2 separate regions of the Homo sapiens genome follow, and region 1 is linked to region 2. Evidence: fine-mapped expression QTL. A gene starts in region 2. The other region holds a variant in brackets. All regions are shown on one strand. Distances are between the middles of the regions.

Region 1 (4,379 bases), 22 kb after region 2:
CCACCACGCCCAGCTCATTTTTTGTATTTTTAGTAGAGATGGGGTTTTGCCATGTTGCCCAGGCTGGTCTTGAACTCCTGACCTCAAGTGATCTGCCCGCCTCAGCCTCCTAAAATGCTGGGATTACACGTGTGAGTCTCCATAACCGGCCAAGGCTGACTGACTCTTTAGCACAACACACAAAGTCCTTACTACCTGTCTCCAACCTTTCTTTTCAGCCTTGGAAGGGGCTCAATGCTTCACGCAGACTAGTCTTCTCTCTGTTCCACACACACCTTTCATGTTTATGTCCCAATGTCTTTGTTTATGCTGTGTCCTATAGCTGGATGCCCTTACACCCTTTCTGACAGTTGAATTCCACTTACCCTTCAAGGCCCAACTTAGATGTTCTTTCTTGTGTGAAGACTTCCCCAATCCCTCCTGATGACACAATTTCCATTTTTAATCACAGTCTGACTTGAATGAGGCTCGGGGTATATGTGTGCTTGTGTATGTGTGTGTGTTCACCAGCATGTGTTTGTCTTCACTGATAGACTGAGAATGTCCTGAGGTCAGGAACCGAGTCCTTATCATCTTTGTGTCACTGAATGTCAAAGCCACTTGTGATTATAGTGGGTAGAATGAATTATAATGGGTAGAACACATCCCAAAAAAGATGTGTTCAATTCATAACTTCTGGTACCTGTGAATGTGACCTCATTTGGAAATAGGGTATTTGCAGGCATAATCAAGCTAAAATGAGGTCATACTAAATTAGGGTGGAGGGATACTTGAACACAAACAAGAGACACAGGCAGAATGCTGTGTGACAAGAGAGGCAAATCTTGGAGTAATGCAGCTGTATGCCAAGGAGCTCTGGGAAGAAGCAAGGAAGGATTCTCCTCTGGAGCCTTTGGAGAGAGGCTGGCTGTGCTCACATCTTCATGGCAGACTTCTAACCTTCAGAACTGTGAGAGAGTAAACTTCTGTTGTTTAAAGCCATCCAGTTTGTGGCACTTCATCACGGGAGCCCCGGGAAATGGATGCACTGATCCAGCACCAAGTACAGTAGCTGGCACTTAGAAAGTATCCCATAAATGTACAGTGTCTGATCTCAAGGAACTTTCTGGGCATTGACATATATGTCATTCACTTTTCCTTACTTCTAGGGTTGTCTGCATACAAACTTTCCATGTCTTTGGGCTTTTATATCTGTAGAGAGGCTGTTAGATTTTGGGCTTTTAGAAACAGGACTGTTCCTGCCTTCGTGAAGTGTCCCTGGCATGACCAGGCTTCAGATGACTTCATAGGAGTATTTCTCTTCCTGTGTTGAGGTGTCAGCACTGACCAGCCATGGGAAGAACATTCAGTAGGTCCCTAGGGAGACAGCAGCTTCCCTGACAGTGTCAGGCCCCGGGTCAGAGGATCCAGGGACCTAGACTATTGGGGTCCCCTCTTTCTCTTTTCCTGTAAGCAGCATACAGCTCCAGGGCCTGCCTTGGCCTCTGTTCAGAACTCCCTGGAGCCTTGTCGATATTCATCTGTGCACTCCAATGTCACTAGCAGGGAACTCATATGATTTCCACAACCTGGAAGGAAGCAGAGCAAGGTATCGTAACATCCACTCCACAGATAAGGAAACTGAAGGAGTTTGTCCCAAGTCACACAGTTCACAAATGTCAGAATCAGAGCTCAAGTGTGCAAGTTACCAGTCCAGTTCTCATGTCCTGGACCTCGTCCCACCCTTGCCAAGAAGGAAGGCTCCCTGGAGGAGGGGGTACTTCGGGAGGGGGAATCTCAACAGGCTGGCTGTGTCTGTGTTTCCAGGCTTCTGCCCGGCAGCTAGCTTGCCCTTTGCCGTGAGATCTCAGAGCTGGAAGGCCTGACATGAGCACCAAAGAGAGGCTGAGGCTGGGCAGCGAGGCCCAGGAGCATGAGGGCAGTTCTGGCTCTGGCTCAGGCTCCCTTTTGATATTCTCATCCTGGCGCTGGGGCTGTGCCTCCTTCCTCTCAGGGCAGGAACAGCAACTGTGCGCTGACCCTGCAGTTCAGATCCATCAGGGAAGATAAGATTCCCCATGCTCAACGCCTGACCCTCTCTTAGCCCAAGCCCACCTGAGGCTGGTTCCTGGATAGAAAGCACCTGGCCCCGCACCAGCCCAGATGGGCACCTAAAGGGAGCCAGGTGGTGTCAGGGGTGCCTGAGCTGTCTCACGGTGCTCCAAAATTCGAGTCCTAGATATCTGTGTTTAATCTTTCCT[T/C]GGGGAAGAAAAACTGAGCTTCCTCTGCCCTTATTATACACCCTGCCACTCTAGCCCAAAGTCCAGTATCAGGGAGCAAGGACAGTGCCTTTGACATATTTGTGCTTTCACAAATGTTTGCTGAATTGAGTCTAAGATTCTCCCTTTGGGTGGGGCTGGGTCTACCAGGGGCATGTTTTGTGTGCAGCTCAGAAAGCAATGCCTCATTCATCTCAGCGAGGCCTACTGGGACGGTGGGCCCGGGTGGGTTCCGAAGCCAGGGAGTGGGGAGGGCGCTCCCTGCGAAGGGGCCCCGAAGGCGCGGGCGCTCTAGACCCGAGATCACAGTACCTGCGCTAACTTTTCCGCTCGGCTTCTTGCTCTTGAGCGTCTCCGGGCTAAGTCGGGTTCCCGGCAGGGGTCCCCGCCCCCAGCCCAGCTCCTCGGCACCCCGGGCCGCGGCACAGCGCGGGGAGGCGTCCCAGCGCCAAGCTGGTCGGACTGGTTCTGAGCAGGAAGTCTCCCGCCCTCGCCCCGGGCAGCCGACCAGCCCCACGCCGGCCCCGGGCGTCCGTCGTTCGGTCCCGCGATCCGTCCGACGGTCCACCCAGTGCTTGCGGCCTCGCGGCCGGGCCGGCCTGGGCTGCAATCAATGCGGCTTTGTCTGGGACGCCCACATCCCAGAGGCCATTCCCGGGTCGGCAAATCGGAGCGCGGCCGGGGCGCGCGGGGGTGAGATAAGCGGCCATGTGATCCCACCTGGGCTGGAAGGGGAGGGGCGCCAGGTGAGGCGGCGGCCGGCGGGGCGCGGGCGGCCACGCGGGGCTCCTGCAGCATGGCTGTCAGCAGGAAGGACTGGTCCGCGCTGTCCAGGTGAGCGCCGGAGGGAGCCGGGAGGGGCGGGGGGTCGGCGGGGAGCCTTTGGGTCTCCTCTCCTCGGGGCACCGGCCTCCTCCCCGCCTGGGACCCTGACACTGAGGCTGGATCCTGGTCTTGCTGCGACTCGCGGGAGACAGGATTGGGGCCAAACTCGGGACCCCTGAGGTTACAGGGTGGGTCTTCTCCCCTCGGGGCCTGAGGCCCCACACAGGGTGCTTAGGGGAAGGCTGGTCCTCAGTCTGGACGCCCGCTGGGATATGGCCCCCCCTGTGGAAGGTGGAAGCAGGAAGGAACGTTTTGGGGGATTGTGGAGGTGTTCAGGAGTAACCTCCAAGCCTCATTCCTGAGAGAAGCCTCTCTCACTGCCCCCGTGTGTCTCTGGCGGAGAGGACCCCTGGGAGGTGTCCCACAGCCCCTCTTGGGAGGGGGAGCAGGGAGAGCCGTCTTGGAGGGGTCAGTGAAGAGGACTGGAGGGAAGCAGACCCGTCTCCCACTAAGGACGCTCAGAATCTCAGCATGGCATTTTGGGGTGGCATCTGGGCTGGGAACCTTAAGATAGTTGCCATCCCCATCTGTGCTGCTGCAATCTTTACTTGTACACTGGTCTCCTAAAGGGTCGGGGATGAGGCATCCTACCCCTGCCTGCTGGACATCCCATCAGGGTCCGAGAGGCCTGGGGAAGGCGGGTGTTCAGAAGGCAGCACCCCTCATGGAGATTGGTGACCTCTAGCGACTTCTCTTGGAGCGACCCTGCACCTCTGCCAAGAAGGCCCCCTGTGAGCATTTTCACCTCATTCCTCCACTGGGCGCCCCCGTCCCCCATCTTGTCCCTAAGGAAACTGAGGCTCCTGCGGTAGCCCAGAGCTGGAGCCTGCTCTTTTGATCCCTTTCTAGCCAGGTAGATATTAGCCTCTTAGCTCCTCCCAGGTGGGCATTTGGGTCTTGGCCTTTCCTGAGCCAGGGCTATCTCTGCCAGGTGCAGACCCTCCAGCCATTTGGGTCCTGTAGGCTTTCCCCAGCAAGGCATCTTTCACAGGTTTTTCCAGTGCTCTAGTATGTCCTCTACCCCGCTCCTGCCCTCCCTTAATAAGGGCTCCAGAACTACCTCATTGTCTCAGGCTTAGCCTCTCCATAGCAGCTCATCGCCTGGGACTGGGGGGCCACCTCCCCAGACCCTCAAGACCTCACAGTGCTCTGAAGCACTGTGGGCAGCCCATGGGCTCTAGAGAGGGGAAAAGGTAAGCCCCACGAATGGAGGGAACTCAGTGCTCTGGAAAAGAA
Region 2 (4,379 bases):
TAAGCATCTGAGTCAGACAGAACCTCAGCTCTGGGACAGCTGTGCCTGCTCTGCAGGGAGAATAGGAAGCCTGGCCCCAGGGCAGATGTGCACTGAGAAGGGGTGACCTTTTCTGTAGGCAAGGAGGGGAGGAGAAAGGCTGCAGAGGCGCACTTGGCTGGGGCAGTGAGTGGGCCACAGGGCTAAGACCTCCAGTGGCGGCCCCTCAGCTGGGTGTGGGCGGCCTGAATCATTGAGGCCTGCTCTGCACCCACTCCATACATGAAGGAAGATGGGGGTCAGGGGCAAGGACAACAGGGCACTGCATTCTTGCTTTTGAAGGCCACCTTTGAGAGACTGCAGGAGAGAGACGCTAAAGAAGTCAGTGTGTGAACTGGGGTCAAAGGTCAGGGTGGATCTGAGAGGGTGAGCTGGAGGCTGGATTCCACATGGTGTGCAGGGATGGTGGGGATGGAATTGGGACACTGGGGTGAGGGGTCCTGGTCCCATGCTGTCCAACAGAGTGTGAAGATGAATCACTCCGAGTCTGAGATTCTCCATGGCTCCTGCCCAGGGAGGGCCCCTGGCTGCACTATGTTCTCCACGTCTTGCTGCGGACATCCGGCCACCTACTTTCTTGGCTTTTGTTCACCCTGCTTTGTTCTTCTATTTGTCGAACTGTCTTCTTTTGTTTTTCCTTTTCAAAAAGCAGGATAATTCATGCAGAGAATTCATTTTTTGAGAATATCAAGGCCTTTTAAGAAAGTTATTGTATAGGCTGGTCATGGTAGCTCATGTCTGTAATCCCAGCACTTTGGGAGGCCGAGGCAGGTGCGTTGCTCAAGGCCAAGAGTTTGAGACTAGCCTGACCAACATGGTAAAACCCCATCTCTACTAAAAATATAAAAAATAGCCAGGCATGGTGGCGTGCCTGTAGTCCCAGCTACTCAGGAGGCTGAGGCAGGAGAATCACTTGAACCCGGGAGGTGGAGGTTGCAGTGAGCCACTGTACTCCAGCCTGGGTGACAGAGCCCCTGTACTCCAGCCTGGGTGACAGAGTGAGACTCTGTCTCCAAAAGTATATAAATAAATAAATAAATAAATGGAAAGTTATTGTATAAATTATAATAAGCCAAGGCAATAAACTCCAGTAGGCTCATCTGCAAAGCCCCTAAATTCCTTCTCCCCTCTAGCTGCTCCTTTTGGCTGGAGCCTGCCTTCATTATCCATCACAGCCTCTCCACTTGGAATCCTATGTCCCCAACCCCTATGCCTCCCCAGACCCTGTCATTTCTCCCTGGCAGCCGTCTCACATAGAGGCTTCTCAAAGTTGACCCGACCAGAACAGAATTAGAGCAACCTCTATTAGGCAGCAGAATGTCGTTGTAGAGAGGGCAGGGCCTTTACCTCTGTGGGCACTGGGGTGTGTCTCCTTAGGACACCCCTGCCCATTACTCTCTCCTTCTCCAAATGGGGAGCATGGCTGGGGCTCCCTAACCTCCTGCTTGCGAGGCCTCTCTCTGGCCTCTGAGAGGGTCAGTGTCCTGCCCCAACCCATGAGATGACAGACTATAATAGCCACAGGATTAACATAGCAGGCATTGTCTTTCTCTGACTATAGGGTGGGTATTATGTGTTCATCAACCATCCTAAAAATACCCGGTAAACAGGTGCAGCCCCTGTGGCTCCAGTCCCCTGGGATCTGTTGGCTTCTGGCTGGAGATGAAGATTAGGGCAGAGGAGAGGTGAATTAGTCTCACTGAGTTCCAGGCATGAGACTCGGGTGTCCTTTGGAACCTGGGAAATCTAGATTCCAGGAAACCCATCTGGAGGGGGATGCAGAGTGTCTGCAGACCCTCAGACCTCCCTGAGCATAAAGGTGTGCCCTGCTGCCACTGCCATTCTGCTCAGCCCTGGAAACACTCACTGGGGTCAGCCTGCAACACTGCTCACATCACTCCCCACAGCCAGGCACCCTCGTATCCCACGTGCACCAGAGCCACTGAAAAATCCCTGAAAGCTGAGTCTTTAGCCCTCTTGGGCTTTTGGGGCATGGGTTCAGGGGCCTCATTTCCATATTGCCTTATAAGAGATGCAGGGTTAGCCCAATGGTCCTCTTCCCCCAGCTGCTACTTGCCCCTCTGGGCCTTCACTGTGGCCCTTTGCTCTCCCTCATTCCCCCTCCCAGTCCCATCTCTGCTCAGTCCCCACACCTGGTCTGGCTGCTCATTCTTTCCCTTTCTGCAGCTCGAGTCTCCCCAGGTGGGTGCTGGTTTCACTCAGTTGGTGGCACCTATGTGCACAGAATTTGCCTCTGCTCCTGAGCCACAAATTCACATGGCTTTCCGCCTATGTGCCTGTTGTGTGCATTGCAGCACGCATCTGCCCTGTGAGGTGTGTGTGTGTGTGTGTGTGTGTGTGTGTGTGTGTGTGTGTGTGAAGGGTGGGAGGGAGGAGGGGCAGCAGGAGGGGGCAGTGGGTCTGTTCTATTTTTACCAGCCAGTTGCTGCTGGACACAGTTTTCATAGCCTCCCCTCGGCTCTGCCCCTCACAGTCTGCAGTCTACGGCGAGGCACAGGCCAGCCCAGCTCCACGAGGACTGAACAAGGTAAGCGTCTGCAGCCCAGAACTTCAGATGTAGGTTGATCCCAGGCAGAGAACCTGGGGCTTTTGTTTAAGGAGAAAGCGAGGTCTTGGAGCTGGAGAAAACCATTTCTTGCCTGTGCAGTTGGTTTGTTGGTAGAACATTCCTAAAATACTCCCACAGCATTTTGTCCCACAGAATGGCATCTCTCCTGCAAAACTGTTGTGAGAGGTGAAACTTTTTCCTGGCCATTTGGAGGCTGTGAGCAAGGAGCAGAATCTTCCGTGAGGTTCCTTAGGAGCCCCAGGGCAGAGCCTAAGGGATGATGTTTTCACACAGGATGCCCAGCAGAGTGTGGGAGGGAGAGCGCACCCAGGGGAAGGGGTGGCCCTGGGATCAGAGAGCCAGGGTGAGTGCTCAAAGTCAGCAATGCCTGCAGCGGAAGAGAAGGAGGGTGCCTGACGCGCAGGACTCCCAGGGAGCCTAGAAGGCAGGGCCAGAGCTCCCTGCTGGCCAAGGAAACCATCTTGCTTCTGTGTTCTTTGTCTCTGAGCGACGCTGTTAGCTCCCTTTGCCTATCCCTCTGTAGTGTAGCACAAGAGCAGAGGAGGGCAGACCGGCAACCCCTCTTGACTGCTCCTGCTCAGAGCTCCTGGCTCTGAGAAGCAGCAGTAGATACTGGGGGTCCTCTTGGAGGAAGGCAATGGTGGCGGCATTTTGGGTTGGGGCACAGGAGCCAGTGAACACATAAGCCAGGGCAGTATCTACAGGGTAACCCAAGGCTTGGGGCAGGGGGCCGTGTGGCGGTCCCTGACTCAGGTGGGGGCTGAAGGCAGCACCTGCCACCAGGTTTGGGAGTCACAGTCCCACAGCAGCTCTGAGATTAGGCTTTGCTGTTCAGAACTCAAGATGGGGGCAGCCCAGCGCCATGCACTTGGGAGTGTTAACCGTCAGTCAAGGAAGACAGGGATGCCCTTGAATGGGGGTCCAAGGTCAGGGGGCGGGGAGCAGGGGGAAGCACATGAGCCTAACTAGATACTTGTGGACGTGATCATTGGGTGTGCAAAGAGATCAGTTCTTTCCCCTACATATACACGCTCTCTCTCTCACACTCACACTCTCACACACAGTCACTTACACACACTTACACACACAGACTCAATCTCATAGTCTAGCGGATAGTCCCTTCCACGCTGCAAAGCCTCAAGGAAGGGAAAGCCCAGCTCTGAGGCAACCACCAGAGACTCTTTGCTCCCCCCCTCGGGGGGAGGATTTTCTCATTATCTCCTTGCTTGCTACTTGTAGAGGAGATGGAATCCTGGCTCTCCAAGCCTTCCAGTGGCTGCTATCTTCATCCTGACTTATCAGTCCTCGCTTGTCTTCCACAGAGCCTGGCAAGGGCCCCCGTCTGAGGGGTGTCAGAGCACAGGCTGAGGCCTCTTGCCTGACGTGGGACCCCTTGGTCTGGCATTTGTCAGTGAGGCAGGCTGGGGGCAGGCCCCGGAGCTTGGCAGGAGGTGTAAACCGGCCTTGGAAGGTAGGGCCCCACAATGGGGACAGTTGGATCTCTGAGGGAGACAGGGAGGCATGATCACTGCCAAATGCCCACCAAGGACAAGGCACATCCCAGGGAGACAGACGCAGACCTGGTGCCCTCTGGACACTGGCATTCCTGGAGGCTGATGATGGACAGATGGGCCTGGAGGTGGCTCTTCGCCAGCTGGTGTTTCCTTTGGACTTCCTCAGTGTCTTTGGAGAAGCAGAGCCCTAAGAATAAGCAGCTGCCCATAAAATCTAATACCAGCCAAGCATCTCA

Alleles and levels. Positions count from the first base shown, and alleles are read on the strand shown. Sizes are in standard deviations (SD) of each study's normalised expression.
For the expression in lymphoblastoid cells of the gene that starts at base 2,530 in region 2, allele C in region 1 goes with a higher level than allele T (small effect, 0.33 SD a copy in GEUVADIS).

The links. PIP is the estimated chance that this variant, and not a neighbour inherited with it, causes the effect.
Region 1: its variant is the best candidate, but not a certain one, in a credible set for the expression of TNNI1 in lymphoblastoid cells (GEUVADIS, PIP 0.83).

Annotation. Positions count from the first base shown.
Region 1 is chr1:201,397,982-201,402,360 of GRCh38, reverse strand. LAD1 (ladinin 1) reads left to right here and starts at 3,037. Exons shown (of 10, transcript NM_005558.4): 1 at 3,037-3,092. The coding sequence starts at 3,055. LOC101929343 (a long non-coding RNA gene) reads right to left here and starts at 2,870. Exons shown (of 2, transcript XR_241172.3): 1 at 2,571-2,870; 2 at 1-1,568. RefSeq lists an enhancer at 2,679-3,341. The variant T/C (reference allele first, on the strand shown) is at 2,241.
Region 2 is chr1:201,419,881-201,424,259 of GRCh38, reverse strand. It overlaps TNNI1 (troponin I1, slow skeletal type), which reads left to right and starts at 2,530. Exons shown (of 9, transcript NM_003281.4): 1 at 2,530-2,587.